Linked DNA regions of Homo sapiens: all the other regions are linked to region 3. Evidence: fine-mapped expression QTL. A gene starts in region 3. Each other region holds a variant in brackets. All regions are shown on one strand. Distances are from middle to middle.

What was found. PIP is the estimated chance that this variant, and not a neighbour inherited with it, causes the effect.
Region 1: its variant is the best candidate, but not a certain one, in a credible set for the expression of FAAP20 in whole blood (INTERVAL, PIP 0.68).
Region 2: its variant is the best candidate, but not a certain one, in a credible set for the expression of FAAP20 in CD8 T cells (Kasela 2017, PIP 0.55).
Region 4: its variant is the best candidate, but not a certain one, in a credible set for the expression of FAAP20 in whole blood (TOPMed, PIP 0.69).
Region 5: its variant is the best candidate, but not a certain one, in a credible set for the expression of FAAP20 in monocytes after LPS (Kim-Hellmuth 2017, PIP 0.67).

The regions. Positions count from the first base shown.
Region 1 is chr1:2,052,143-2,058,173 of GRCh38, forward strand. It overlaps PRKCZ (protein kinase C zeta), which reads left to right. Exons shown (of 18, transcript NM_002744.6): 2 at 3,299-3,420; 3 at 4,342-4,431. Among named protein-coding and RNA genes, the nearest start is that of PRKCZ, 4.7 kb to the left of the region's middle. The variant A/G (reference allele first, on the strand shown) is at 2,517.
Region 2 is chr1:2,303,353-2,309,383 of GRCh38, forward strand. It overlaps SKI (SKI proto-oncogene), which reads left to right. Exons shown (of 7, transcript NM_003036.4): 3 at 1-48; 4 at 488-750; 5 at 941-1,233; 6 at 2,668-2,898; 7 at 3,225-6,031. The coding sequence ends at 3,413. Among named protein-coding and RNA genes, the nearest start is that of SKI, 78 kb to the left of the region's middle. RefSeq lists an enhancer at 3,302-3,935. The variant C/T (reference allele first, on the strand shown) is at 2,874.
Region 3 is chr1:2,191,608-2,197,638 of GRCh38, forward strand. FAAP20 (FA core complex associated protein 20) reads right to left here and starts at 3,165. Exons shown (of 4, transcript NM_182533.4): 1 at 3,081-3,165; 2 at 2,391-2,526; 3 at 2,032-2,303. The coding sequence starts at 3,142. It overlaps LOC112268219 (a long non-coding RNA gene), which reads left to right. Exons shown (of 1, transcript NR_168005.1): 1 at 1-851. RefSeq lists silencers at 2,920-3,009, 3,020-3,499 and an enhancer at 4,133-4,799.
Region 4 is chr1:2,156,655-2,162,685 of GRCh38, forward strand. All of the region lies in intron 10 of PRKCZ (protein kinase C zeta), which reads left to right. Among named protein-coding and RNA genes, the nearest start is that of PRKCZ-AS1, 24 kb to the right of the region's middle. The variant G/A (reference allele first, on the strand shown) is at 2,760.
Region 5 is chr1:2,116,936-2,122,966 of GRCh38, forward strand. All of the region lies in intron 4 of PRKCZ (protein kinase C zeta), which reads left to right. Among named protein-coding and RNA genes, the nearest start is that of PRKCZ-AS1, 64 kb to the right of the region's middle. The variant C/CT (reference allele first, on the strand shown) is at 2,854.

The DNA of each region.
Region 1 (6,031 bases), 140 kb before region 3:
AGGGGAGTCCTGCGAGAGGGAGGTCCACACCCGAGGGGCTGCAGGGGCCCAGACCCTCCTGCATTCCGGCGTCCAATTCCTGGGACCAAGGCTCGGAGGCAATGCCACTGGAGTTCTGGGCCGCCCCGTCCTCCCTCTGCCTTGCTTTGGCCCCTGGGAGCACTTTGGTGGTGGGGCGGGTGTAATTCCACCCGGTGACTCTGGTTTCCCAGGCTGGAGAGACCAGGCTCCCACCCCTTCCTCTTCCCTCCCTTCCCGGACTCTCTCCCCTCTCTCCCCACCCCTTCCTCTTCCTCCCTCCTTCCCTGTTGTTTTCCCTCCTCTTCCCGCTCTCCCCTCTCTCCCTTCCCTGCCACACCTCTTCCTTCACCTTCCTCCCCCTTCTAGGGCACGTCTCCCCTCTGGCTCTTCCCTGCTCCTACCATTCCTTCTCTCCTCTCTCCCCTCCCAGGTCCTCCTCCTCTCTGCTGCAGAGTGTGAAGTACCCTTCTCCCCGTTCTGGCTCCTCGTCCCTCTGGGCACCCGGTGCCTCTCTGAGGGGACTGGCTGTGGGGTGGGACACTCAGGCCTTAGGGCAATGACACAGTTCCAGAAAGCGGCTGCCAGGATGAGTACTGGGTTATTGAAAGCCCTAGAAACTCTGTCCCTGGGGTGAGACGCTGCTGTCCGTGGGGGTAGCTGAGCGTGGACACGTGGAAGACTAGTCTTTAGAAAAAGGAAGAGCACTTCAGTCACCCCCATGGGGCATGGCCACCCCGTCATCCTTGCCTGTCCTCCCAGGGCCCTCTGAGCACACTTGAGATCCAATCCTCGCCACCCCACCCCGCCCCCTGTGGGCCTGAGGGGTCCCCAGGCACCTGTGTTTTCAGGGAGTCCCAGGTGGCCTGGGCCAGACTCCCACGCTGAGTCTCAGATGCCCGCTCTTCTAGGGCCACAAACACTGGTGCTGGCTCTTCCCTCTTTCAGCTCAGACTTTTTTTTTTTTTTGAGTCTCGCTGTGTTGCCCAGGCTGCAGTGGTGTGGTCTCGGCCCACTGTATCCTTCACCTCCGAGGTTCAAGCAATTCTCCTGCTTCAGCCTCCCTAGTATCTAGGACTACAGACGCCCGCCACCACGCCCGGTTAACTTTTGTAGTTTTAGTAGAGATGAGGTTTCACTTTGTTGGCCAGGCTGGTCTCGAACTTCTGACCTCGTGATCCGCCCGCCTTGGCCTCCCAAAGCGCTGGGATGAAAGGCGTGAGTCACCGCGCCTGGCCCAGCTCAGACAACGTTTGTGTTCAGGGAGCTTCTGTGTGCAAAGCCCAGGGCTTGGTGCTGAGGCCAACAGAGACGCAGGAGTCTCTCCCGGGCGGCCCAGCTGGCTGCTGGGTGCTGAGTCCTGGACGCCCCTGCTGAAGGGCACAGGGCAGCTGTTTGATTCAGGATTGGGATAGGGTTGGAGGTGGTGGCCTGACACTTCCCAAGCCCTGGGGTTTTACTGGAGCCACCCACCTGGCCTCTAGATTGGCCGGAAACTGGCTTCCACTGGAGGCAGGACTGTAGGGGTAGGGGCGTGGGGCAGGAAGAGGTCAAAGGTGAAGTGATGGCCGACTCCCACTCTGGAGTTCCTGGTGGTCAGACTTTTGGACTCCAGGTCAGGCAGCAGGCGTGGATGTCAGCTTGGGGCGACCCCAGGGTGATGGGTGTGTGACCCCCCTCCATTCCTTACTTTCCTAATCTGCCATGATGCTGTGGGCTGTGGCGAAGACCAGCCAGGTTGGTTCCTGTGGGGTGCTTGGGCACTGGGGGCAGGTGCTGGGTGGCCAGTTCCAGCAGGAAGGGGTGGGTAGCTGGGGCGTCTGTCCCCCAGGCCCAGGTGGCCCAGGGTGACTGGGTGAGGCCTGTGGGGCAGGTGGGCCCTGGGCTGCTGTGTCAGGGCCGCGGCTGTGGACCGATCCTGTGTTCTGTTTGCACTGGAGTTCTTGTCTGGGATGAGAACTTTGTTTCTTGAAACTTGTCTGATGAATTCAGATAACCTTGATGGGGAGCCAGCAGTGTCAGCGAAGAGCAGAGCCTGTATCTCTGGTTGGGACATCTCACACCCCTTCAGGCTTCTTTTTATAGGCCCTGTGCTCTTGCCCCGCGCTCTTGTGGGTGTCAGAAAGCCGTAGATTTTTCTGAAAATTCAGTGTGTTCACAAGGGTGTGATTCCCGCTCTGAGTTTCAGGAAACACCAGCTGGGCCCTGTGGTGGTCCCTCCCCTCCACGCAGGGTGAGACCAGCTCTTGCTCAGTGCAGGAGGTGAGGGGGGACCTCGGGTCCCTATCAGCAGGGAAGTGCCAGCCTTCAAAGGGTGCCTGGGAGTCCGTGAGCTTCCCCAGCCCCTGGAGTTCAGGTCCTGTCTGGGGCTGAAAAGATAAAACACACTGACTCTGTGTGACTCGGTTTTAAAAAAAAAAAAATCTGCCGGGGCTTCTGCCGTGGCTGCAGCAACGGACCCAGTGCCCACTCCGGGGTCTAAAGAGTGGCCTTTCATT[A/G]TGGAATTATTTAATCCCCGCCACTTCACCGCTGGCACCGTCGAGGTCTGGGGGCAGGTCTGACTGGTTTCCTTTACCTTAGTGAAGCCGGCGGCCTGCACCGACCCGGCTCGCGCCCATCCCGGGGTCACCCACATTTGGGTGAACTTGAACGAGTGCCCGACCAGGTAACGTTGCCGGACCTCCCACAAGAGGGCACTTTCTTTTCTCCCATTTTGTCCTCATTCTTTCCAGCCAGGTAGGTCGCGCTTTTTTCTCTGTGCAAGGAAGTTGATGGTGGTCATTTTTTTTTTTTTTTTTTTAATACGGAGTCTCTCTCTGTCGCCCAGGCTGGACTGCAGTGGCGCGATCTCGGCTCGCTGCAAGCTCCGCCTCCCGGGTTCACGCCATTCTCTTGCCTCAGCCTCCCGAGTAGCTGGGACTACAGGCGCCCGCCACCGCGCCTGGCTAATTTTTTGTATTTTTAGTAGAGACGGGGTTTCACCGTGTTAGCCAGGATGGTCTCGATCTCCTGACCTCGTGATCCACCCGCCTCGGCCTCCCAAAGTGCTGGGATGACAGGTGTCAGGCACTGTGCTTGGCAATGGTGGCCATTTTTTAAACTATGGTTATGGTTAATGGTTCTATTTTGTGTGTGGGAGGGGGGAGGGGGTGGGGCTGTCATATTGTCTTTGGGGAAAGTTTCATTTATCTAATCAATGATTTGGTTAGTTGGTAATCATTTTTTAATTTGATTCAAATATGCCCCACGGTAACAGATGCCCATGTCCCCTCTGCCCCAGGGACATCTTCATCACCAGCGTGGACGCCGCCACGACCTTCGAGGAGCTCTGTGAGGAAGTGAGAGACATGTGTCGTCTGCACCAGCAGCACCCGCTCACCCTCAAGTGGGTGGACAGCGAAGGTAGCCCTTGTCCCATGTTGGCCAGAATCCTCAGCCTCAGGGGACTTCGCCAGGGCAGCCTCTGTGTGCGGAGTGTGCTCAGCCAATTCTGTGGGGAGACTTAAAGCTGTGGAATTAAACTTGTTGGCGCCAACTTTTCCCCAGTGGGGATGGTGGGAAAGAGGTTGGCCACAGATGCTTATCAAGGACCTGGGCCCAGATGCCCCTAGGAAGGGCTCTGGTCTTGAACTGCCTGCAGGGGGTCTCCCTGCCCCACCCTGGGCAGGTCCTCACCTCTTCCTCTGACCTCCTTTCTCATGTCCTGGCCTTTTTCGGTAGGTGCTTCTGAAAGGATGGGCTCTTCATATTCTAGGGACCACGGGGAGGGCACAAGCAGCCAGGGCCTGCCGTGTCCACCTCCTGTCTCTTAGACACATCCTGAAAAACAAGGGGATTGGGAGACGTCCAGAGAGACCCCTTTCTCCCAGGGACTGGCGGGCAGCTCTTGGCCAAGGACACGGCCGTGCGGGTGGAGCCTGATAGCGCCCCCGTTGGGTTGGGTACAGCCCTGCAGGGCCTGGGTTCTGTACACCTCCATGTCCCTTTCCAGCCATAGAGGGCAAGGAGCTCTCCCTCCGCCCAGGACTGACCTCCGGAGAGTGTCCTCAGCCCCGCTCACTGCTTAGCCCTCCAAGTGGTGCCCAGGGCTGCAGGTGTACTGACTTCCCTTCCGGGGTGGCTCTGACGCTGCACCGGGGGCCAGGTGACTCCCTAGTGTGGACGGCCGTCCTTGGACCTCCCGACCCTGCCAGGAGGTGGCCAGTCTGAGCATCGGGACTTTGCCCCCCACCAGACCCTTGTCTGGTGTGCTGAGCGGGCTCGTCACAGCCCCCTTTGCCTCGGGCCTTCGGCGACGTCAGCACCGTCTCCTGCCCCACCCAGGTGACCCTTGCACGGTGTCCTCCCAGATGGAGCTGGAAGAGGCTTTCCGCCTGGCCCGTCAGTGCAGGGATGAAGGCCTCATCATTCATGGTTAGTGGCGGGGTCTGTGGTGGGCAGCTCTGGGGGGCTGTTCCTGGCTGTGGGTGTCTGCCGACTAGCTGGGGGATTTAAAATGGTTTAAAATCCTATGATGCCAGAGAATTTAGGGATGTCTAATATAATGCCATTTGGGTTTTTTTCTTTGACTTTTTTTTTTTTTTTTTGAGACGGAGTCTTGCTCTGTTGCCCAGGCTGGAGTGCAGTGGCACAATCTCAGCTCACTGCAAGCTCCGCCTCCTGGGTTCATGCCATTCTCCTGCCTCAGCCTCCCGAGTAGCTGGGACTACAGGCGCCCGCCACCACGCCCGGCTAATTTTTTGTATTTTTTGTAGAGACGGGGTTTCACCGTGTTAGCCAGGATGGTCTCAGTCTCCTGACCTCGTGATCTGCCTGCCTCAGCCTCCCAAAGTGCTGGGATTACAGATGTGAGCCACCGCGCCCGGCCTTTTCTTTGACATTTTATTAACCCAAATGAAAACTGCTCTTAACAAAGAACCCGTAAACCACTCAGAGGCTCCAGTGGCCAGCGTAGGGCCCGCGGCGCATGTGGACAGAGGGGACAGCCCCACCAGCCACCTCACCTGCCCGGTGCTCCCTAGGCCCGGCTCCAGGCTCACAGCTGTCCTCAGCTTTAAGTTCAAAGCCCCATGATGAGCTGACGCATGGGAGATGTGATTGTGATCATTTCCACTTTGTCTTTAGGTGGGCGTGGGCTCCTCCCCGGTACTGCTGGGGGTCTGCAGGGCGTCTGGGGCCTGGGAATGTGGTTCCAGCGCTGTGGCCAGCCGGTCACGTCTTTGTCTCTGTGTCCACTTCTGGCGTAGCTTGGGCTCCTTGCCAGGCGTCTGGCCATGGACGATTGAGTCCAAGATGGGACCAAAGCTCGAAACCACCCATGGATTTCTGACAGATCCATCATTCTCCTGGACACCGGGCTACCTGGTTACAACACTTAATTTTCTTCGCCCTTTATATCAATGAGGCTCTAAATTTAAAGACTAGGCCGGGTGCGGTGGCTCACAACTGTAATCCCAGCACTTTGGGAGGTCAAGGTGGGAGGATCGCTTCAGCCTAGGAGTTCAAGACCAACCTGGGCAACATAGTGAGACCCCCCCCTCTCCAAAACTTGTTTTATTTTTTTGAGACAGAGTCTGGCTCTGTCCCCAGGCTGGAGTGCAGTGGCACTATCTCTGTTCACTGCAACCTCCACCTCCCAGATATAAGCGATTGTCCTGCCTCAGCCTCCCGAGTAGCTGGGACTACAGGCATGTGCCACCACACTTGGCTAATTTTTTTTTTTTTTTAGTTGGAGTCTCGCTCTGTCGCCCAGGCTGGAGTGCAGTGACGCGATCTCAGCTCAATGCAACCTCCGCCTCCCGGGTTCAAGCAATTCTTCTGCCTCACCCTCCCAAGTAGCTGGGACTACAGGCATGTGTCATCACGCCTGGCTAATGTTTTGTATTTTTAGTAGAGACGGAGTTTCACCATGTTAGCCAAGATGGTCTCGATCTCCTGACCTCGTGATCCACCCGCCTCAGCCTCCCAAAGTGCTGGGATTACAGGCGTGAGCCACGGTGCCCGGCCTAATTTT
Region 2 (6,031 bases), 110 kb after region 3:
GAGTGAGAAAGAGCTCTCCCCACACCTCCCGGCCCTCATCCGAGACAGGTGAGTGGGCGCCATTCACAGGTGTTTCTGATCACGGGGGAGGCTCCACGAGGGCTGTGCATGCGGACGCGCCCATGTTTCTGCAGGCTGGGTGCCCAGACCTGCCGCCTTTTGGTCAGGGCAGTCTCGGTGTTGGTTCCTTTGGCTGGCATCAGGGAGAGCACACCTAGAGCGTTCCCTGTGTTCTGGGTGGAGTCGTGGGTGGAGCCCTGTCTGCTGGGCGCAGCTTCTTGATGTGTTGGCCTGTGTCTGGCCTTCGCAAGAGACCCAGCAAGCAGAAAACGCTTACGGGTTCTTAGGGAACTGTAAGCTTGACTTGAAGATTCGGAGCTGGGAAAGTCTTTCCTGTTTAACACCTTCAGAGGGGGTGTGCGCCAGGATGTGTCTGGGTGGTGCTTGGGGACAGAGGCACCTTCCCGACACCCGCCTGCCCCTCCAGCTTCTACTCCTACAAGAGCTTTGAGACAGCCGTGGCGCCCAACGTGGCCCTCGCACCGCCGGCCCAGCAGAAGGTTGTGAGCAGCCCTCCGTGTGCCGCCGCCGTCTCCCGGGCCCCCGAGCCTCTCGCCACTTGCACCCAGCCTCGGAAGCGGAAGCTGACTGTGGACACCCCAGGAGCCCCAGAGACGCTGGCGCCCGTGGCTGCCCCAGAGGAGGACAAGGACTCGGAGGCGGAGGTGGAAGTTGAAAGCAGGGAGGAATGTACGTGTGAGTCGCTTTCTGTGCCTCCTCCCTGTGGGCTGTGGGGGTGGCACTGGCTGAGGGGGGCTGGTCGCCGGGGGTGCGTTGGTGGCCCCATGTTTCGCAGGTTCCTCCGGGAGCGGCGCGTCTCCCTGGTGTGGAGCTGCCGGGCACTTCCATGACTTTGTTTCTGTCTCTGCTTCCTCCTCAGTCACCTCCTCCTTGTCCTCGCTCTCTTCCCCGTCCTTTACCTCATCCAGCTCCGCCAAGGACCTGGGCTCCCCGGGTGCGCGTGCCCTGCCCTCGGCCGTCCCTGATGCTGCGGCCCCTGCCGACGCCCCCAGTGGGCTGGAGGCGGAGCTGGAGCACCTGCGGCAGGCACTGGAGGGCGGCCTGGACACCAAGGAAGCCAAAGAGAAGTTCCTGCATGAGGTGGTCAAGATGCGCGTGAAGCAGGAGGAGAAGCTCAGCGCAGCCCTGCAGGCCAAGCGCAGCCTCCACCAGGTGAGCGGGGCGAGTGGTGCTGGGAGGTCCAGGGCACGGGCAGTGAGCACAGCCTGCACCAGGTGAACGGGCACAGGTGGTGCCTCCTCCCTTCCTGGCTGCCCCATGCGCTCCTCTCTGCCTCCACCTCAGTGGGCCTGCCTGGGACCTTGGGGGTCCGTCTCCCAAAAGCTGCAGCCCTGGGTATGGTGAGCCCCTCAGTGTCCCCAGGCTGATGGACATCCCAGGAGGCCACTACATTTGGCTTGACCACAGCTTTCCCCATCAGGATCACACACCCTGCGTGGTGGCCCCACTGAGGAAGTAGCCATGTTTCTCTGGTATAAGGGAGGCCGGGCTATTTTTAGTGGCAGAAAGAGTTGGGAGCAGCTGCATGGAGACAGTTCCTTGCTCTGTGTGCTCCAGGAGTGGGTGTTCACGCGCTCCGCCAGCAAGACCTGGCGTCTGCAAAACACAGGCGTGAGGGGCGTGCTTACTAATGCCTGGTGTTCCAGAAGGCGGCTCCCGCCAGGCCTCCCGAGTAGGAAGGAGAGGGCTCGGCCCGCACAGACACACACACACCCACCTGCACACGCTGCTTCTCTGGGCTCTGCCTCACGGTTCTCACGCTGCAGCTCCGGTCTCGCGCCTCCTTTTACGTTGTTTAGGTTTCTTTCTGACATGACTGAGGGAAGTGCGGTTCACAGGCAGAGCTGCCTGGGGAGAGAGGTGTGCAGGCGGCCCGTTGTTCACCGGGCCCCGGCCTCGCTAAATTCACACCTCGGCGGCGTCTGGCAGCTTCCGCGGCGTGGGCTTTAGCACAACACAACCCCGTCGGCCCTCAGAGCTGCAGGGTTGCCGACGTGCCCTCCTGCGCGTGCCAGTCCCTCGCCCCAGCACGTCCCCCGCCACTGTTGTCCTTGATTCTGGTTGGAGGTGTGATTTCCCACATACATATTCATGTGGTGTGTTTGCAGCGTGGGGTGTGAGTCACACGGATATTTTAATGGGGAGAGTGGGGGGGCTTGCGGAGGCGCCGGGCGGATGGACGTGTCCATCTGGCTGCGTGGGGAGACCCGGGGCCCTCAGATGGTGCGATGTCTGAGGCTGCCCTCCTCACATTGATGGGAGCCAGGGCCTACTTGGCTTGCTGCCCCCAAGGGGAACGTGGCCCTAGATACCGGGGGAGGCCCCGCCGCAGCCTCAAGTGACTGACTCAGGCCCCCAGGTTTAGCACAGCTGCCACAGGCCTGGCGGAAACTCCGGATGGGGGTCTGAAAAGCCTTTGTGGGGTCGGGGCACCACACGGGTTGGGCTGATGGCGCGCTGGGGGCGGGGCTCCAGGGCACATTGTCAGATAGATGACCCCACGGGGTGGGCTGAGGACTGCTGGTCATGGTGAGGGGTGTGCTGGGACCGGCTGGGCAGTGACCCCGAGCCGCCTCCGGCCCCCAGGAGCTGGAGTTCCTACGCGTGGCCAAGAAGGAGAAGCTGCGGGAGGCCACGGAGGCCAAGCGTAACCTGCGGAAGGAGATCGAGCGTCTCCGCGCCGAGAACGAGAAGAAGATGAAAGAGGCCAACGAGTCACGGCTGCGCCTGAAGCGGGAGCTGGAGCAGGCGCGGCAGGCCCGGGTGTGCGACAAGGGCTGCGAGGCGGGCCG[C/T]CTGCGCGCCAAGTACTCGGCCCAGGTATGCGGGTGGGGAGACTGAGGCACGCAGCACGGTGGGCGTGGAGCCGCCGTGGGCCCCGGTGGCCAGTCCTGCCCAGCCGGAAAGGCCTTGGAGCAGAAGCCAGGCCCGGGACCACGTTCCGTGCGTGCCCCCCCGACGGGCACAGGGTGGGTGGTTGCTGGGCCCTGCGTCTCGTGAGCCTGTGTCCTAGCAGGTGGAGGAGGGGCCGGCACGCGGCACTGGGGAGGGACAGGGAGCGGCGCAGGAGCCTCGGGTGGGGGAAGCAGCGTCGGGCCGGGGCAGGGCAGCGAGCAGGCGCCGCTGACCACTCGGCTCCCTTTCAGATCGAAGACCTGCAGGTGAAGCTGCAGCACGCGGAGGCGGACCGGGAGCAGCTGCGGGCCGACCTGCTGCGGGAGCGCGAGGCCCGGGAGCACCTGGAGAAGGTGGTGAAGGAGCTGCAGGAACAGCTGTGGCCGCGGGCCCGCCCCGAGGCTGCGGGCAGCGAGGGCGCTGCGGAGCTGGAGCCGTAGATTCCGTGCCTGCCGCCGCAGCGCCGCCGACAACGCGGGTGCAGGGGGGCGCGGCTGGGCGGTGCAGCTCCGCCCGGCTCCGCCCCTGCAGCCCACACAGCACAACGTCTTACCGTGCCTATTACCAAGCGAGTGTTTGTAACCATGTAGTTTTGGAACCCACTGCAAAATTTTCTACTGGCCAAGTTCAAGTGAGTAAGCCGCGTCCCCCAACTACAGCTGGAGACGGGGCCAGCTCGGCGGCCTGCTGGTCCTCTGCTTGCTGGAACATTCTAACATTTACACTTTTGTTATAAGCTATTTAAAACCAGTAAGGAGACTTGAAATTCAGAAAATCAACACATTTTTAAATGACTAACTTCTAAAAGCCCCAACACATGACGCCATCTGAAGACCCGCAACGGAGTGGGGGTGGCGGCCGCCCCACCCTCCCCACCCGGGGAAGCCATCACAGCTCATCTGCCCGCGGCTGCGTGAGGACAGCAGGGGTTTTTCTTCAGAGTCTATTTTTTCAGCGACAAGGACCCAGGTCTTCCTGCTGCTGCCAGGGAGAGCAGGGACAGTGCCGCGTGCGAGATGAGCTCGAACACTGCCCGCCTTACTGCCGCCTACCCCGCCCGCCACGCCGCCGTCGATGCCAGCGCTGTCCCCACGGGTACCAGGAAGTGCAGAGCCGCACAGGAGCTGCCCCGGAGCTGAGGGGACGGTCTTCGGCTCCTCTGCACCCCGTGATTCTGCCCACGCTCCTCCACCACGAGGCACTGACCTGCGTCGGGTGGTGACCGTGGCTGGCGGTCACGCCCTCAGCCCCTCCGGGCACACGTGCCGCCTGACCGGGCGACCCTTTTCAGTTCGGCAAACGTCGCTCCCTTCATTTTGGGACTGAGGCTGCAGCATTGGAACAAAAGAGCATTATTTCAATTTTTCTTTCTTTTTTTTTGTTCGTTCATTTAAACGTATATTTAGAACTGCACTTTGTCCACAACCTTCCCTTCTCTTTCTATTCCCCAGTGAACTGAGGTTTTTACCGATTTATAGAGCAGTCAAATCCGAAGTGCTCGAGTGCTTAGAAACCCCCTCTGGTGCTTGGTTGAACAAGGGAATCACAAGAAAACGAAAATGCAAAAACTGAACTTCGGGGGTCGTTCTGTGCCTTCCAGCATCTTGTACAGCAAATCCTGACTCGTGTCTTTTTACCCCCAAGATATCTGTCTTCAGTAGCGACTGAATCTGCCACTCTCAGAATAAGTTCCTTGCATTTATTCCAAATAATCTCGTTTACTCTCACCTGTTTATGCAAATTGTATAAGGTTTCTTATGCCCAAGCTTGAAAAATGATTTCCCAGTAGACAAGAGGCGGCTACCTATCCTACAGTTACGGTATTTATTTACATAAGAAGATCTTACAGGAGTTCTTTGCTTGAATCCGTTCTAACACCCGCGGCAGCTGCACGCGCTCACAGAAGGTGGAGGTTACTTGCCCAGGTACAGACGACCTCGGGGCAGTGACGAGCAAAGACCAGAGACTGCTGAGCCCTCGCATCTGGGTGGCGGAATTGCCTGCGGGGTTTTGCCCTTGGTTTACTGAGGGGGGTCTTGGTTGCTGCTGAAGCCCCCCACCCCTTCTAAAGTGCAATGCAAAAGGGACATCATGTATATGCAGCGTTTGTTTGGAATTTTCTTTGCTTTTGTTTTCTTTGCGGTTGTTCTGTGTGCATGGATTCCACACCTCTGCCGTAGGTAGATCCGTCAGCGGGCATTATTACCGTGTCTTGTAAAGGGTCGGTTTTGTTATGCAACATGCAGAATGCTGTTTTTAGCCTTGTTTTACCAGAGTTGTTTTTTTTTTCAGTTATTTCTTCAAGGGAAACTAAATGATTTAGTTGGAGCAAAGCTTTAAGTGTGTTGGCGTGCTTCTGTGTGGCTGTCCTGTGTCGCCAGGTCGAAGATCACAGTGAGGTAGAGGCCCTGCCCCATCCCCAGGGCCGCCAGGCTTGCTCCGTTTGCTTTGAGTTTTTAGACCCCAGAGGGAGATGAGCTTTTCCAAGCTGTGTCTGGGCCAGAGCCTCTCCTTGCCCTTGCTCCATCCCGACGGTCACCGTTGGGTCCACGCCTCCACCGCCCCATCTTGCCCCAAACGGAAAGCGCTGTATCTGCAGTGGCAGCCCTTCCCCACTTCGGCTCTGGGAGGGTCCAGCCAGTGTCACCTGGGCCCACCCTTTCCTGCAGCTGCCAGGCCCGTGCGGTCAGTGGGACCCGGACGTGGGCAGGCGAGCTCGGGACCCTCCCAGGCAGTTCCCACAGCTCTTGCCTCGGCTCACCAGGGTCACTTCCACTGTCAGGGGCCTGAGGGGGCAGCTGTGGCTGCAGGGCTGCTCTGGACTGAGGGGTCCCAGGCCCCGAGGGGTGCACGCCTGGCTCCCCTTGGCACAGGTGCGAGTCCGTTTCTTTTCAGCAGAAGGGGGAAGAGGTGTCCGCTGTGTGGGCTGCTGACTCCTCTGTGTGTGAGGCCCTTCATCTAAGTGATTGTGTATTCAGTTTAATTCTCATTATATTTCTATACTGAAAGAAGATTTTTAACGAAGGGAAAAACAACAGCAATAACATTCATATCTCTG
Region 3 (6,031 bases):
GGTGACGCCTGTAATCCCAGCTACTCAGGAGACTGAGGCAGGAGAATCGCTTGAACCCGGGAGGCAGATGTTGCAGTGAGCCGAGATCATGCCACTGCACTCCAGCCTGGGCGACAGAGCGAGACACCGTCTCAAAAAAAAAAAAAAATCCCAGTGACCAACCCAGGGCCTCGCCACATCAACAGAGACAAAACGCAGCTCTGGCTCTCAACATCCTCACCCCTCACCAGGTGCCCAGCTTCCCATCCACCCACGTGACCCGCAGGTGTCTGAAAATGCACAAAATGTCCAAATAGGACCACAAGAAGATCTTAAAGACACAAAGAACATTCTACATAGTTTGTCAAATCCAGCATTTGACGGTCCTCTGGGTGACCCGGAGAACACCAAGGCTGTGAGAAATGGGAGGCCTCCTGGCAGCTCCACTCCCCAGACCCGCCTCTGCCAGGGCTCCAGGCTCAGCAGGCGCCTGTGCGGGACAGGGCGACGGTTCAAGACCAAGTCCGGCTGTTAGACCAGACCCTCCAATCCAGGCGGCCTCCCTGCTGGGGTCCTGTGCGGTCAGGAGTCCCAGGGCATCCCAGGGTGGCTGTGCAAACCCTTGTTCCCAAAGATATGGGGCTTGTCCCCCAGCTAGCCTGCCCATGCGGTGGCCACAGCCTCGGGTGAGTTCCGGTTCCAAAGTACCGGCTCTCCCTTACGATCAAGTGTTCGAATGTGCTTGAAGCATTCCAGACACACCAAGGCCTGGACCTGACTTCATTGACGCCTACTTAGGAAAAATTGAGGCAGTCTGCCAAGCTTTCAGCAACTGCTTAAAAAGCTCAAAATGGCAAGTTTTTCCTCGTGAACGTCCTTGTCTTCAGAAGTCTTTTTTTAGACTATCTGGAAAAGCAGGCGATGCAAAGACAAAAGCCCCTCCCCGGGGGGCGGGGGGCAGCACCCTGACAGCAACAAGGATCTCAGAGCTTCAGCCAAGAGCATGGATTTCTCCCCAGGGCTCCCAACAGTACCCTCTGTCCGTGATTCAGGGTCTTACTCTGTCACCCAGGCTGGAGTGCAGTGGTGCAATCATACTTCACTACAGCCTCCAATTCCTGGCTCAAGGGAATCCTCCCACTTCAGCCTCCAGAGTAGCTAGGACCACAGGCACGCGCCACCACGCCCAGGCATGTAAAGATGGGATCTTGCCATGTTGCCCAGGCTGGTCTCAAACTCCTGGGCTCCAGCAACCCACCTGCCTCAGCCTCTCAAAGGGCTGGGATTACAGGCGTGAGCCACCGTGCCCGGCCTTTTCTTTTGTTGTTGTTGTTGTTGGCTGCCAACTTTGGACTCCGGTGCCTTCGCATTCCCGAGCTGTTTTTGCTTCTGGAAGACCAGGGGCATCAGGCATGACTGAAGGACCTGGTCTCCATAAGCTCTGAAACCTGCCGCCCATTAACTCAACCAAAAGTTACGAACCAGCATCATTCACACCACCCCAGCCCCAGGACCTGCTCCGGAGGCCAAGGGCCCAGAGGTCGCCAGACACAAGGCCAGGCACTGGGCAGTTTGGGTTATCTTGTTAGCAAAACTGGGTTCCATTCCCCTTTACTTAAAAAATACATAAAAATATACGTTGGGTTTCAAAAATAAGAAAAAGCATCTCCAGACAAAAAAGACGATCTTCATTTTTAAAACCCATGACGCACTCTCGGGAAGGTGTTCCTGTGCTCTGGGCCTGGGGACGCTGGTGCCACCAGATTCCAGGATGGCCAGGTGGACCCGGGGCCAGTGCTCCCAGCCTTCCTTCTGTGCTGTTCTGTGGGCCCCCAGCCTGCCCTGCCCACAGAGCACGGCAAGCAGGTGGACCCCAGACCCGTGACAGAGAGCCACCTGGACATGCCAGGCCACAGCACTGGGCCACCTTTCCAGTGTGAAACAGGGCTTTAAAAGCCAGCGCTGAGCTCGGCCACCTCTTGACCTTCTGAACGGCTGTGGTTTCCAAACACGGATGGATAACCGGGCCGGGCGCAGGGGTGGCCTACTCACCTGGGGGCGAACTCCTTCTGGCACATGGGGCAGCTGCGCAGGGCCGCGGCACCCTCCACAGACGGCTGCTGCTCCACCCTGGGGGCCCTGCAGGGATCAGGTGCCGGGCGCTGGGGCAGGGACCTGGCGGGGGATTCCAGGTGCCCTCCTGCCCCGTGAAGCAGCCGGTAGGAACGGCCCGGGCCCCACAGGTCCGGCGGAAAGGGTGTCCAGGAAAAGGTCTTGGGTCCGACAGTGAAGACTTCAGTGGGCTCCGGGCCGCACCTGGGCTCCTGCAACACAGAGTTGTTGGGCCTTGCCCAGCGATGGCTCCCGCCCTGGAAACCCCTTCATCGCTAAGATGGGCCCAGTGGGCACACCTGTCCTGGGAAGGCGGGCAGTGAAGGCACCTCGTGATCCAGGATCAGCTCCGGGCTCACCGTGCGCAGTAGCTCGGCCCAGAGCCGCTCCCGCTCATCACCCCCCAGGAGAAACCAGGGGCGGCCGCCAGAAGGCCTGGGGCAGACAGAGAGGGCAGACAGGGGGTACTCAGTAGCGGAAACGCTATGGTGGGGAGACCCGGGAGGGCCTGGGGCAGAGAGAGCGGGGAGATGGGGGGTACTAGAGGGAAATTCGATGGTGCGGGAGGTGGCCGGCAGGGTTGGGGGAAGGGCTGCTGGGGCAGACAGTGCGGAGATGAGGGGTACTGGGGGTGGGGGAGCGGGGTGGGTGGGTGGAAATATGGGGTCCTCAGCGGGATGAGGCGATGGTTGGGGAGATTGCGGAGGGCCTGGGGAAGGTAGAGGGTTAGATGGGGGGTGCTCAGGGGAGACGCGATGATGGGAGAGGCGCGGGAGGGCCTGGGGCGGCGCGGGGGAAGCTCGGCGTGGGGTGGGGGCTCAAGGCGGGCGCTGAATGGCGGCGCGGGGTGGGGCGACGGGCGTGGGGGCCGGGCCCGGGGGCAGGGAGCCCTCCCCAGGGGGAGAATAGAGCGGGAGGCCCGCGGGGGCGCCGGGAAGCACGTGGGAGCGGGAAAACCGGCCGCGCCCCCGCCCGGCTCCCGGCCTCACCCGCCCGCCGGGCGCGGCCTCCGGCGGCTCAACCCCAGCCGCGGCCTCCGCGCCGCCTCCATCCAAGCCCGCGCCGGGCGGAAGTGAGCGCAAGCCCCGCCCCCGCCCCTCCAGGCCCCGCCCCCGCCCCGGCCCCGCCTCCAGACCTCTGCAGCGAGGCCGCCCCCCTCCGAGACAGTCGGAACCCCAGGGGCCCTGATCCCAGCCTGTAGGGAAACTGAGGCCAGGGTTCCTTCGTCCTGCACCGCACAGGGGGGCCTGGCGTGAGGGTGGGGGGCCCAGGTGGGGGAGCCCCGCCCGTGTCCCCTTTCCCGTCCGGGCAGCCCCCGGGCCGGAGCCCCCTCCGTTACCCCGATGGCTGCCCGGCCCGCCCCGGCACTGCCTCCTCCCGGCTGCACCCAACAGCTCCCGCCCCCGTTTCCGGCTCTGCGGAGCCGCCTCTCCTCCCAGGACCATTCCAGGAGTAAATAAAGCTTGAAATCCGCCGTCGCCACCACCGTTTCTTTACAAAAGGCGGGGAACTCAAGCTCCTTAACCAAGAAACCAGAGGCGAAGTGACAAAGTCCAGGTGGCTCACTTGGGCCTCAGGGGCCTGGGCCAGGGCCCTGGGGGCAGCTGAGGGGCTTTCCTGCCTGGACCCCGGGCTCTGCGACCTCAAAGTCGGCCACGTGGTGGCAGCAGCCGCCCAGGCACCCTGGTGCCACACTTGGCTGTGCCCAGTGCCCCATGGGCCCAGGCCACTTGCCTCTCCCTTGGCCCTGCTGGGCCCTGGAGTGGCTGCCACCCTCACGGAAGGAGTGGGGTCTACAGAGATCAGGGTCAGGGGCCCTCGCCAGACGCCACTCAGGGCTCTGGGACTCCTTGGCAGTTTCTGCCCTGCCCAGCCCCAGCAGCTTTGGGGCTATGCTGGGCACCCCTCCTGCAGGGCTCCCTGGCTGTTCCTACCCCTCACCTGGCCCCTCCCAGCCCCCAGTCGTCTGTGCCCTCCCTCCAGAACTCAGCTGTGGAGCCCGGCCCTGAACCCAGGCCACCCGAGTGGCCCACCGTCCTTCAAGGGGCCCCAGCCTGGAGGCCATAGGTTGGTGTTCAGGGAAAGGGTCAGCAGCAGGGCCTGGACTGGGAGGTCCCCCTCTCCCTGCATGAGTGGTTTTCTTCCGCACACCTTCCTGCTCTAGATGCTGGAGGCCCCCAGCAGAACAAGATGGAGGCACCAACCCCCAGGCCCTTCGACTTGAGTGAGCAGATGGAGATGCAGCGCTGAGTGCTGCCCGGGCAGGGGGAGGGGGCCTGGGGGAGCTGCTGCAGGCCGTGTGGTCTCAGGGGGCCCTGTGGGAGGTAGCCTGTGGCTGGGCCTGCTCTCAGGCGAGAGAAGCCCAGCCGTGGGGTCTCTGCAGCCCCACGTCCACCACATGGCAGGTGCCAGCTGACCAAGCGCTCTCAGACAGCCAGTGTCCAGGGCTCCCCGACAGTCCTGGCTGCCCTGGCTTCAGCTCCGAGCTTCTGGGTCTTTCCTGGAAATGTCACCATGGTCTGCAGGAGGGCCTTGGGTACTTCCAGGAAGACTGGTCCCAGCCTCCCAAGACAGGAGAAAAGGCCAGGCCCAGCAGCCCATGCCTGCAATTCTAGGACTTGGGGAGGTCCAGGCAGGCAGATTGCTTGAGCCCAGGAGTTTGAGACCAGCCTGGGCAACATGGCAAGACCTTGTCTCTATAAATAAAAAATTAGCTGGGCATGGTGGCATGTGCCTGTGGTCCCACCTACTTGGGTGGCTAAGGTGGGAGGATCACCTGAGCCCAGGTAGGTGGGGGCTGCAGTGAGGCAAGATCGTGCCACTGCACTCCAGACCCCAACTCAAAAAAAAAAAAAAATAGGCCAGGTGTGGTGGCTCAAGCCTGCAATCCCAGCACTTTGGGAGGCCAAGTCGGGAGGATCACTTGAGGCCAGGAGTTTGAGACCAGCCTGGCCAACATGCAGAAACCCCATCTCTACTAAAAATACAAAAATTAGCCGGGCATGGTGGTGCACACCTTTAATCCCAACTACTTGGGTGGCTGAGGCACGAAAACCACCTGAGCCTAGGAGGCATAGGTTGTGGTGAGCCAAGATCGCACCACTGCACAACAGCTTGGGCATCACAGCAAGACTCTGTCTCGAAAAACAAAAAAAGACAGAGGAGAAAAGCCCTTGGTGACAAGTGTTTGCTCAGCTCTCTGTGCCGTGCTGGGGGTGGTGGGGGGTGTTCTTGCTCCTTCCTCTCCCTTCCCCACTCTGGCTCCCAACCCCAGGGTTCTGCTGTTGGACCCGGGGGTGGCTCCTGCCTCCTCCTCCTCTATGGCCCCCACATGGTCCAGTGCCCTCCTGCCATGGGACCGGCCGGCCTCTGGATGGGCTCCGAGCCCCCTGGGACCCATCTCCTTCCCTGCCTGGGTCCCTTGGGCAGAGCCTGGGAAACTCAGGCCCCTGCCCTGTCCTGGAGGACCATGTGAGGGACACCTGTGTGTGGCTGCTGCCCCAGAACAGGGGCCTTTCTGGGCGGGAGGACCCAGCCCCCACCCCTGGAAAGCCAAACACTAGAGCTTTGCTGGGGTCTTCAGCATCCTTCCAGCCCCTCCCGGCTCCCCCATGCAGGTGCCCTGGCCACTGGGCCCAAGAGGGGCAGAGCCGAGCAGAAGCAGGGCGGGGTCTCAAGTGACCCAGACCCGGGACACCTGCGCTGCCCGGCTGGCGCAGGCTGCTTGGGAAGCTCTCGCTGCGGGTGCCCCAAGGGTAGGAGGCACGGGCCTGCAGGGGACCTCAGGGCTGGCTGAGCCTGGCTCCAGCCCGCATCACTGAAGCTGGGGGGCCCCCATCCCCTTGAGTCTTAGCCACCCCAGTGGGCCTCATTTACCCTTGGCCACCAGGGAAGAGGAGCCAGGGCCCCAGGCCAGTGCCATGGGGCAGAAGGCAGGGCC
Region 4 (6,031 bases), 35 kb before region 3:
CACAGCTGGCATACTGCACTGGGGAGATAAAGGAGACTTGGCCAAGGAAAAAGGCACATGGGGAAAATTCCAGAAGAAACCAGTCACAAGCTCCCAAGAGCCCTCTCCCAGTTCCTCCAGCAATGAATTGTGACAACTCATGGTTTTTGTCAAGGGCTGGTCATGCAGGCTGCACACGAACCAAAATTCCAGACTCCCAGTGGAGAGCAGGTGTTCAGCATTGCGTTAGTCAGGGTTCTCCTGAGAAACAGAACCAGTTGTGTGCACGTGTGTGTGTGTGTGTAAAGAGATTTATTATAAGATACTGGTTCATGGGATTATGGAGGCTGAGAAATCCTATAATCCGCCATCTGCAGGCTGGAGGCCCAGGAGAGCCAGTGGCACAGCTTGAAGGCCTGAGAGCCAGGAGCTGATGGGGTCGCTTCCAGTCCGGGTCTGAAGGCCTCAGAGCTAGGAGCAAGGGGGCCAGAAGGTGGATAGCTCGGTAGTCAGGGAAACGCAGCCTTCCTCCTCCTTCTTGTTCTCTTCACGTCCCCAGGGGCCTGGATGATGCCAGTCTACTTCAGGGAGGGCCGTCTGCTTACTCTTCCAGAAGCCCCCTCAACAGGCATGCCCGGAAGTCATGTACAGCCAGCTACTAGGGCGTCCCGTGCCCAGTCAAGGTGACCGTTGAATTCACCATCACGAGCATAAGGCATCCTGTTCAGGCACACACAGTTTGGGCACAGCAAGCAGCTCTTATTCCAAAGCTTTTTTTTTTTAATGTGCTTTTCTTGTTTTTGAGATGGAGTCTCGCTCTATCACCCAGGCTGGAGTGCAGTGGCAACATCTTGGCTCACTGCAGTCACCACCTCCTGGGTTCAAGCAATTCTCCTGCCTCAGCCTCCTGAGTAGCTGGGATTACAAGCACCTGCCACCACACCTGGCTAATTTTTGTATTTTTAGTACTCTGTGTTGGCCAGGCGGGTCTCGAACTCCTGACCTCAAGCCATCTGCCCTCTGCAGCCTCCCAAAGTGTTGGGATTACAGGCATGAGTGACTGAGCCCCGCCTCCAGAGTTTTTTTTTTTTTTTTTTTAAATAAAGATAGGGTCTTGCTCTGTCGCCCCAGGCTGGTCTCAAACTCCTGGGCTCCTGCCTCAGCCTCCCAAAGTGCTGGGATTACAGGTGTCCACCACTCTGCCTGGCGGTCATGCAGAAGCATGTTATATCCGTGTAGGGAACTGTTTGCAGTTCACGTTCCCAGCCCCAGCTCCGGGCCAGCTTTGCGGGCCAGGCTTCCTAAGCACAGCGGTCCTAGGCCCTGGGTGCAACCCTCTGCTGCTCGGTTCTTAGCTGTACATCTGGCGACTTGCTCTCCTCCGCTGCACTCTTGGCTCTCCTGACCGCAGGGTCCTGCTCTTGCCTGTGCTTGGCAGCCACCTCTGTCTGTCGGAAGAGCCGGCGTGACCCGGCCGTTCCCCGACCTGCTCTACGTGCGGTGCCGTCCTGGTCAAGGGTTCCTGTTTTCTGGCTGCTTACGCCTCCTAAGTGTGTTTCAGGGTCCCCCACCCTCCCCACCTGACCCCAGGGCTCCCCAGTGTTGGCTTCCCCATGTTGGGCCTGAGCCATATTTGAGAAACACAGATCTGAAGTCTTTTTCCTGCCTCAAAGCTCCTCTGATTCCTCCTCCCCAGTTGCTTCTGGGGTAAATTCCAAGCTTCCTGTGCGTGTGGACGAGGCTTGTGGTGACCAGGCCCCAGTGCCCCATCGTGTGCTTCAGCGTGGCGCCCTCGCCCGCACCGCCTGCGCCTGACGGCTCTGTCCCCTTTCCTTCTGCTCCCCTGCTTCCCGGAGTGAGTCAATGCCTCCCTTTGTGCATTCCCATTGCGCTTTTCCAGGCCTCTTTCCGCCCTGACTGCCATCCCTTGCGATTTGGGAATACGCCCAGGGGAAGGCAGCCCGGCCCCCCACACTTCCTAAATGGTGAGGTTCCAAGAAGGGTTTTGTTTTGCTTTGGTTCTTCTTCATATGTGAACTTGTAGGGATGTAGATGTATAAGGGGTCCGATATCCCACCCTCACTTCCCCTGAGTGGCCCAAAGCTCAGCCCCTTCTGCACTTGTGTCTTTGGACTCTTCTGTCAAGTCACAAGTTCCCAGATGCGTAAACCTGAACTTAAAGAATTGTCGTCTGTGGGGTGTCTGTGGGATCCCCGCAGCGGCACCAATCACTGTCCTGTGGGAGCATTCGGCATTCACAGTTGGGAATAATTCCTATGCATGTCTGATTTTTTTGCCTTTTTTTTTTTTGAGACGGAGTCTTGCTCTGTCACCCAGGCTGGAGTGCAGTGGCACGATCTCGGCTCACTGCAACTTCCACCTCCCTGGTTCACGCCATTCTCCTGCCTCAGCCTCCTGAGTAGCTGGGACTACAGGCGCCTGCCACTACACCTGGCTAATTTTTTGTATTTTTAGTAGAAACGGGGTGAGCTCCGGGTTGGGGGGAGGACCGGCAGCTGCCTTAGTCCAATAGCTGGGGGGCTGTGAAAACTGCCCACAAATTCTTACTGACCACACAGCACCAGACACCCACGTGAAGCAAAGCCAACATCGGCAAGGCGGCCACGCGTCCGGGTGGCGGAAAAGTCTGGCCTGGCCCAGGTGGGTGTGCTCGGCTGTGCCGCCTCTGCTCCCTGGTCACTGGAGGTGACTGCAGGCTTTATGAGGACTTCCTCTTTGTGCGTTGGTTCTGCTGGAACATCCAGCTGAGGTTTTGCGTG[G/A]GCCCCTTGCTGAGGGCCAGGTGAATAACACGCAGAACAGGACACTCCTTCGCTCTGGGCGGCCTCACAGCTCCCGGGCCATATCCAGGGGGAACCTGGCCGATGAAACTGCAGAGGTTTCCACACAAGTTTGGTTCCCATAAAGGGTCTGTGAGTGGGGAAGAATCAGAATTGCTTTCTTTCCACCCCAAATCTGGTCTTGCCTCTTCTGGCCGGCCATGTTCGTGTCCACTGGGCGGCTACAGGGAATTCCTGAATGTTACAGTTCAACATTAGTCTCACCTCGTGTGTCCAGATGGAGAGAAACAATTCATTCGCAGTTTTAAGACACAATAAGCACCTGCTTTATGGACAAACCATACCCCATATCTACACAGACAGCCCACCTTTTCCAGACAGCAGCCAAAATTGAAATGAGCCATAAAGTCTCCAAAACGAGAAATCGCTTCAGTTTAAGCTATTTCAGGAAAACCAGGTAACTAGAGATTTAGCTGAAATGACTACTTTCAGCGTCCCCCGCCCCATTCAACTGGAGTCGGAGGACACTTTCTCACTAAGGCACGGTGATCTCAGATGGTAGGTGAGCAAACTACCCTTAAAATACGCCCATTCACTCGCTGTTCTAAAATAAAATCTCTTACTGTTTGCCACGGTTGATTATTTTACATTCATTCACACTCAATGTTTCTTTAAAAAGAACAAACACACACCTTTGCTTATCTGTGGAAGCGCTTCTCAGGCCGTGCACTGACTGAGACACTTGAGTAAGCTCTTCTTGGTCAAACTGACTTCTAGACATGAAAAGCACTTCACCCAGCAGTGTGCGTGTGTGTGTGTGTGTGTGTGTGTGTGTGTGTGTCAGTTATGCTTTGAAACCTGCCCGAAGCTCTGGAGAGGGAGACAGCTTTACTAACAGCAGAGAGTGACGTCCCTGGAACTGGTCACCAGCGTCAGGAGGCGTGGCACCCGGGGAGGGTCCGCAGGGAGCAGAGTGGGACTCCGTGGAGAGGGGGGCAGGCAAGGGTTGGGTCACGTAGGAGGGGCTCATGGGGGACAGGCCTGTGGGAAGGACGAGGGCAATGGTGTGTGTCAGGGACAGAAGAGAACCAGGCCTGAAGGTGCCAGGGGCTTTCGAAGCTGGACTTGGCCAAGAGGCCCTGGGATGCGGAGGCCCCAGGGATTCTCAGTGCAGTGCTGGTGTTGGGCAGGCACTCGTGTGAGGAGTAGGATCTGGGCCGCAGAAGCCAGAGGGACCTGCTGGGCCTGTCATGGCCTGGAGGGAAGCCTTAGGGGGTGGGGAGGAGGGGCCTGTCCCCATGTGGGGGAGTCACCCCGGTTCGCAGAAGTCAGGGCAGTGCTGGCCAGACAGGCACAGAGCGGAGCCAGCCTGGACGTGGAGGACTCGGGGGTGCTGTGGCCTGGGATGGAGACGCCCCGCCCCGCCGGGGGTGATTGTGGTTGTGGGTGTGTGAGAAAGAGGTGAGGGTGTGACGGGGTCTGACCCTGGGGTGCTGCCTCCTCAGGGCTGCAGGAGGAGGCGCCGCCGTCGGGGTGGAGGCAGTAGAGGGAAGGGCTCAGTGGGTGCCACAGCAAGGACAGCCTCGGCCGCGACCTTGGGAAGGGCAGGTGCCTCTTCTTGGGGAACATGAGTCACCTCCCTTTCAAAACCCATCCGTGTGCTGGAGTCATGGGAGCTCAGAACAGAAGGAGAGATCCTGACTGACACCCGTAGGGCCCAGCGTGGGCGCAGCCGCCTCAGCCTTTGTTCTGCCGACACACGGTGACGGCTCAGCGGCCCCCTGATTTGCTCACTTTTCATCGGGGTTGCCTAAAATGGTAAAAGTGCCACCCTAAACCCTAGCACTTCCGGAGCAGGACGCTTGGGCCTGTGGCCCCCACAAGGCTGTGCACGGGAGAAGGGGCTCTTCCCAGCATCAGGGGCCTGGCAGGAGCCAGGGGCTTGGTTTGCCTTTTGCATTGCGAGGGCGTCCTGCACTCTTCGGGAACACTGCGGACAGCTGCGCATGCATCCTCCCAGAGCCCTGGGCAGTGAGGGGCCCTCGGGGACCCCCAGGACATGGGCTTTGGGACACACCTGCAGTGTACAGGGGGCCCTGCTGTTTCCTGATGTGGTGTCACAGGCCACACAGGACTGTGCAGAACACGGGAGAAAGGGATGCGTTGTCTGTAGTTCTAATCGGGAGGCACTGGCCGCTCTTAGAACAGGTCAGGGGGCAGGTGTCATTGCCATTCGGGGTCACGTTAGGACCGGGGGACCTCCACTGCAGGCTTGGAGATGATTTTGCTAGTAGTGAGCAGAGATGAGGTCATGGCATCTCCCCTTCTCCATCCAGACCCGAACGTCCCATGCCACTGCGCCCTGCATGGTTCCCAGGATGAGCAGGGATAGGGGTGGCAGCCCTGGAGCCACCTGGAGTCTCCTTAGTTGAAGGAACTTTCAGGACCGGTCCTGAAATTGTGCCTTTGCTGCTTAACTACTAGATAACGACAGAGACCACATAAAACAAGAGCCTCTTTATAAACTTGTATCCCATTTTAACGTGCAGGAAAGAACCTTCGTCCGCACTCCAAAGACCCTTGACTAACCAGCGTCACCATCCAGACAGTTTTGCCTCGTTTTTCCTTTTCTCTTGTTTATTTTTCCATGTGGACTTTATAATCAACCCGTCTGCCTCCAGAAAGAAAAAGAAACTGGGATTTTCTTTTCTTTTCTTTGAGAAGGGGTCTTGCTCTGTCACCCAGGCCGGAGTGCAGTGGCGCAATCTTGGCTCACTGCAACCTCCGCCCCCTGGGTTCGAGGAATTCTCATGCCTCAACCCCCCGAGTAGCTGGGAATACAGGCCCCTGCCACCACACCCAGCTAATCTTTGTAGTTTTAGTAGAGACGGGGTTTCACCCTGTTGGCCAGGCTGGTCTCAAACTCCCAACCTCAAGTGATCCACCTGCCTGGGCCTCCCAAAGTGCTGGGATTACAGGTGTAAGCCACTGGGCCTGGCCCGAAACTGGCATTTTCATTGGGATTTGTTAAGTTCACACATTACCTGGGGCGAAATTGACATCCTTCTAAGTGTTGGATCTTCCCATTCAGGAACCCGGTTTACCTTTTCATTCACTCACATCCTCTTTCAGGAGACTCTTGAAGTCTTCATGTGGTTTTCTTCACTTCCTTGTCTAATTATTATTATTATTATTTTTACAGATGGGGGTCTTGCTATGTTGCCCAATCTGGTCTCAAACTCCTGGGCTCAAAC
Region 5 (6,031 bases), 75 kb before region 3:
ATTGGGGTTTTTTTGGCAGGGGAGTTGCGGGGGGCAGACAGGACCTCACTCTTGCCCAGGCTGGAGTGCAGTGGCATGATCATGGCTCACTGCAGCCTTGACCTCCTGGGCTCAAGCAATCCTCCCACCTCAGCCTCCCAAGTAGCTGGGACTACAGGTGTGCACCACCATGCCCAGCTATTTTGGCATTTTTTTGTAGAGACAGGGTCTCCCTATGTTGCCCAGGCTGGTCTTGAACTCCTGGGCTCAAGTGGTCCTTCTGCCTCAGCCTCCTAAGGTGCTGGGATTACAGATGCAAGCCACTGCACCCGGCCTTAAATTCTTTCAATAATATTTTGTAGTCTTGTGTGTAGCGGTCATCCACATTTTTTGTTCAAATGATTCCCTGGTATTTCAGTGCTTATGCTGTTTTAAGCCGTATTACTTTTACAGTTTTTTTTTTTTTATCTTTTTGTTTATAGCAATGTGTAAAGAAGTGTGATTAACTCATTTGTCTTGGCCTCTCCTGGTCCCCGTAGTTTGTCTGTGGTTGCTCCGGAACCTCTCTGTGCGCTGCCATTTTGTCAGTGACCGGCTGTTTGTTTCTGCCTTTCCTTCAGATGTTGCCTTGTTACCCTGGCACTGTTGATCCTTCCAAAACAGTATGGGACAGAAGTGGTGACAGCCACATCCTCTCGTGCCTGATTTCAGGGAAAAGCTTTAAGAATTCCACCATTAAGGGTGCTGTTTGCGGAAATACTGTTTTTCCTTCGTAAATCCCCACCAACAAATTAAAGAGGTTCTATTTTATTCCTAGTTGAAAGTTGTTAATATGAATGGTGCTGAATTTTTTCAGATGCTTTTTTTCCTTCATCTATTGATGTGACAGAACTTTTCTCCTTTATTCTGTTCATACGATGAATTCTATGGATTGGCTCTTAATGGTAGACCGATGGCATTCCTGTAGTGTGCCTCGTTTGGTTGTGATGAGTTCGCCTTTTTATATTTTGCTTGATTCAGTTTGCTATTATTTTGTTTGTTGTTTTTGCAACTGTATTTATGAGAGAGATTAGCCTATTATTTCTTTTTTTTTTTTTTTTGGAGTCTCACTCTGTCACCCAGGCTGGAGTGGAGTTCAGTGGCCCGATCTGGGCGCACTGCAACCTCCGCCTCCCTGGTTCAAGCGATTCTCCTGCCTGAGCCTCCTGAGTAGTTGGGATTACAGGTGTGTGCCACCACGCCTGGTTAATTTTTGTATTTTTAGTAGAGACAGGGTTTCACCATGTTGGCCAAGCTGGTCTTGAACCCCTGACCTTAGGTGATCCGCCCGCCTTGGCCTCCCAAAGTGCTGGGATTACAGGTGTGAGCCACCATGCCTGGCCATATCTTCCTTTTGATTGATGCTTTTATCATCATGAAATGTTTTTGTTTTTTTTTTTTTGAGACAGAGTGTCGCTCTGTCCCCCAGGCTGGAGTGCAGTGGCACCATCTCCACTCACTGCAAGCTCTGCCTCCTGGGTTCACGCCATTCTCCTGCCTCAGCCTCCTGAGTAGCTGGGACTACAGGTGCCTGCCACCGCGCCTAGCTAATTTTTTATATTTTTAGTAGAGACGAGGTTTCACCGTGTTAGCCAGGATGGTCTCGATCTCCTGACCTCCTGATCCGCCTGCTTCGGCCTCCCAAAGTGCTGGGATTACAGGCGTGAGCCACTGTGCCCGGCCAAATGTTGCTCTTTAGATGAAAATATTATTGTCATTAACATCTGATCTGTATGATGTTAGTGTGACCACACCAGCTCTGTGTGTGTGTGTGTGTGTGTGTGTGTGTGTGTGTGTGTGTGAGATGAGGGGAGGGAGGGAAGGGGACTTAGTGTTTATATGCTCTATTTTTTCATCCTTTCACTTTCTTTTCTGTATATTTTGGAAATGACTCTTAAAAGCAGAAGTTAGTTATTTTTAATCCAGTCTGAAAATGGCTGTGTTTTAAATGAAAGATTTAGTCCGTTTACATTTAATGTCATTCTGATGTGTTACATTGTAGCTTTGTCATCTTGCTATGGGTCCTTATTTGTCCGGTCTGTTCTTTGTTTTGTCCCTCTTTCTTGCCTTCTTTTGGTTTAATCAGATGTTTTTATTCCACTTTCCTCCCTTTATTATTATAGCTTTGTTAAGTAATACTTCTCTTAATGTTATTTTAATGGCTACCTTAGAAATTATGAGTCACATCCTTGGAACGTAGCATAAACTACTTTTACCATTTTCTTCAAAACCTTATAACAGTTTAATTCTTATTTTTTCCTTTTTTTTTTTTTTTTTTGAGATGGAGTGTCACTCTTGTTGCCCAGGCTAGAGTGCAAGGGCGCGATTTTGGCTCACTGCAACCTCCACCTCCTGGGTTCAAGTGATTCTGCTGCCTCAGCCTCCTGAGTAGCTGGGATTACAGGTGCCCACCACCATGCCCAACTATTTTTTGTATTTTTAGTAGAGGCAGGGTTTCACCATATTGACCAGGCTGGTATCGAATTCCTGGCCTCAAGTGATCTGTCTGCCTTGGCCTCCCAAAGTGCTGGGTTTACAGGCATGAGCCACTGTGCCTGGCCTAATTATTCTTCTTTCCTTATTGTTAGTTTGTGCTATTATTTTATCAGTCTTTGTGCTGTTATTATCATGCCTGTAAATTCTACGTGTATTTCAGACCCACAAACCAAGTGTTGTCTTAGACAGTGGTCCTTCAGATTTACCCCCAGGTTACCCTTCTAGTCTTCCTGCAGGACGGCGCTTACATGGAGACCAGCTTCCTTCTGCCTGAAGTAGTCCCTTTAGTATTCCTTTCAGCACAGACTTGTAATTAATTCTTTTTATTTCTTTTCTTTT[C/CT]TTTTTTTTTTTTTTGAGATGGATTTTTGCTCTTGTTGCCCAGGCTGGAGTGCAGTGGTGTGATTTTGGCTCACTGCAGCCTCCACCTCCCAGGTTCAAGCGATTCTCCTGGCTCAGCCTCCTGAGGAGCTAGGATTGCAGGTGTGCGCCACCACGCCCAGTTGTTTTTTGTTTGTGTGGGAAATGTCTTTGGCATTCTTTCTGGAGGGTGTTCTCCACTCTGTGTGGAGTTCTAGGCAGGTAGGGGGTTTCCCCCAACAGGTTTTTGTGTTGGCTTGGAGTGTTTGTCATTTCTGTGGTGAGGGCGCCTTCCAGCCTCACTGCCACCCCTGGAAGGCAACATCTCTTTTCTCTGACTCCTGTTAAAAGTGTTTTCATCACAACAGCAGCCTTGTGAAGGACAGAGGAATCGAGAATTTCTCCTAATTGAGATTGGTAGAGCTTCTTGAATCAGGGACATGATAGCTTTTGTCTCTTTTGGAAAATATCAGCCCTTGACTTTTCGTTTTTTTTTTTTTTTTTTTTTTTTTTTTTGAGTCTCGCTCTTGTTGCCCAGGCTGGAGTGCAATGGCGCGATCTCGACTCACTGCAATCTCCACCTCCCCGGTTCAAGTGATTCTCCTGCCTCAGCGTCCCGAGTAGCTGGGATTACAGGCACTTGCCACCATGACCGGCTAATTTTTTTTGCATTTATAGGAGAGACAGGGTTTCACCATGTTGACCAGGCTGGTCTGGAACTCCTGATCATACATCCACCTTGGCCTCCCAAAGTGCTGGGATTACAGGTGTGAGCCACCGTGCCCGGCCAGCCCTTGGCTTTTCAAATAGCATCCTGTTCTCTCTCCCCTGGGACCCCCACACTTCACACCTGTGTGTCTAATGTGCTCTTTTTTCTGGGTTTCTTCTGCGTTGGTTTTTTCCCGCTTTGTGCTTCAATGTGGATTTTTTTCTACTGTTATCTCTTATTTCACCCAATCTACTCTTAAATCTACCCTTTAAATTATTAATTTCAGTCACTTCATTTTTTACTTTTAGAATTTCCATTTGATTCTTTTTTTTTTTTTTTTTGCCCAGGATGGCAATGGCACGCTCTCGGCTCACTGCAACCTCCGCCTCCCAGGTTCAAGCAATATTCCTGCCCCAGCCTCCCAAGCAGCTGGGATTACAGGGTCACACTACCACGCCCCACTAATTTTTATGTTTTTATTAGAGACGGGGTTTTGCCATGTTGGCCAGGCTGGTCTCGAACTCCTGACCTTGGGTGATCCGTTTGCCTCAGCCTCCCAAAGTGTTGGGATTACAGGCGTGAGCCACTGCGCCTGGCATCGTAGTTCTCTCTTCTGGGGTGGGAATGTCTATTCTGTGTCCTTCTCACGTGCAAAATACTGTCATTACATCCCAATGGCCCCAGAACCCTTAACTCCTCCCAGTGTGGCGGGGGCAGTCTTGTCTGAACAAGGCATGGGGGAGCCTGGAGGCCCATTCCTCCTGAGGCCAAGTTCCTCCCTGGCTGTGGGCCAGCATAAGCGAACAAGGCGTGTACTTCCGGAATGCTATGGACTGAGTGTGTGTCTCCCCAGAATCCATATGTTGAAGCCCTAACCCTCCAGTGTGATGGTGTTTGGAGACGAAGCCTTTGACAGGTAGTTAGAGTCATGGCGGTAGTTAGTTAGAGTCATGGCGGTAGTTAGTTAGGGTCACGGTGGTAGTTAGGATCATGGTGGTACTTAAGGTCATGGCAGTAGTTAGGGTTATATCAGTAGTTAGGGCTATGGCTGTAGTTAGGGTGATGGTGGTAGTTAAGGTCACAGCAGTAATTAGGGTCATGGTGGTGGTTAGGGTCACAGTGGTAGTTAGGGTCACGGTGGTGGTTAGGGTCGTGGTGGTGGTTAGGGTCACGGTGGTGGTTAGGGTCACGGTGGTAGTTAGGGTCACGGCGGTACTTAGGGTCACGGCGGTGGTTAGGGTCACGGCGGTGGTTAGGGTCACGGTGGTGGTTAGGGTCACGGCGGTGGTTAGGGTCACGGTGGTGGTTAGGGTCGTGGTAGTTAGGTTCATGGTGGTGGTTAGGGTCGTGGTGGTTAGGGTCACGGTGGTGGTTAGGGTCACGGTGGTAGTTAGGGTCACGGCTGTAGTTAGCGTCATGGTGGTGGTTAGGGTCACGGCGGTGGTTAGGGTCACGGTGGTGGTTAGGGTCACGGCGGTGGTTAGGGTCACGGTGGTGGTTAGGGTCGTGGTAGTTAGGTTCATGGTGGTGGTTAGGGTCGTGGTGGTTAGGGTCACGGTGGTAGTTAGGGTCGTGGTGGTTAGGGTCATGGTGGTGGTTAGGGTCACGGTGGTGGTTAGGGTCGTGGTGGTTAGGGTCGTGGTGGTTAGGGTCGTGGTGGTTAGGGTTGTGGTGGTTAGGGTGGTGGTGGTTAGGGTCGTGGCGGTGGTTAGGGTCGTGGCGGTGGTTAGGGTTGTGGTGGTTAGGGTCACGGTGGTGGTTAGGGTCACGGTGGTGGTTAGGGTCACGGTGGTAGGGTCGTGGTGGTTAGGGTCGTGGCGGTGGTTAGGGTCGTGGCGGTGGTTAGGGTTGTGGTGGTTAGGGTCACGGTGGTGGTTAGGGTCACGGTGGTGGTTAGGGTCACGGTGGTAGGGTCGTGGTGGTTAGGGTCGTGGCGGTGGTTAGGGTCGTGGCGGTGGTTAGGGTTGTGGTGGTTAGGGTCACGGTGGTAGTTAGGGTCACGGTGGTGGTTAGGGTCATGGTGGTGGTTAGGGTCACGGTGGTGGTTAGGGTCGTGGTGGTTAGGGTTGTGGTGGTTAGGGTCGTGGCGGTGGTTAGGGTCACGGTGGTGGTTAGGGTTGTGGTGGTTAGGGTTGTGGTGGTTAGGGTCGTGGCGGTGGTTAGGGTTGTGGTGGTTAGGGTTGTGGTGGTTAGGGTTGTGGTGGTTAGGGTCGTGGTGGTTAGGGTCGTGGCGGTGGTTAGGGTTGTGGTGGTTAGGGTTGTGGTGGTTAGGGTCGTGGCGGTGGTTAGGGTCGTGGCGGTGGTTAGGGTCGTGGCGGTGGTTAGGGTTGTGGTGGTTAGGGTTGTGGTGGTTAGGGTCACGGTGGTGGTTAGGGTCACGGTGGTAGTTAGGGTCACGGTGGTGGTTAGGGTCACGGCGGTGGTTAGGGTCACGGTGGTAGTTAGGGTCAT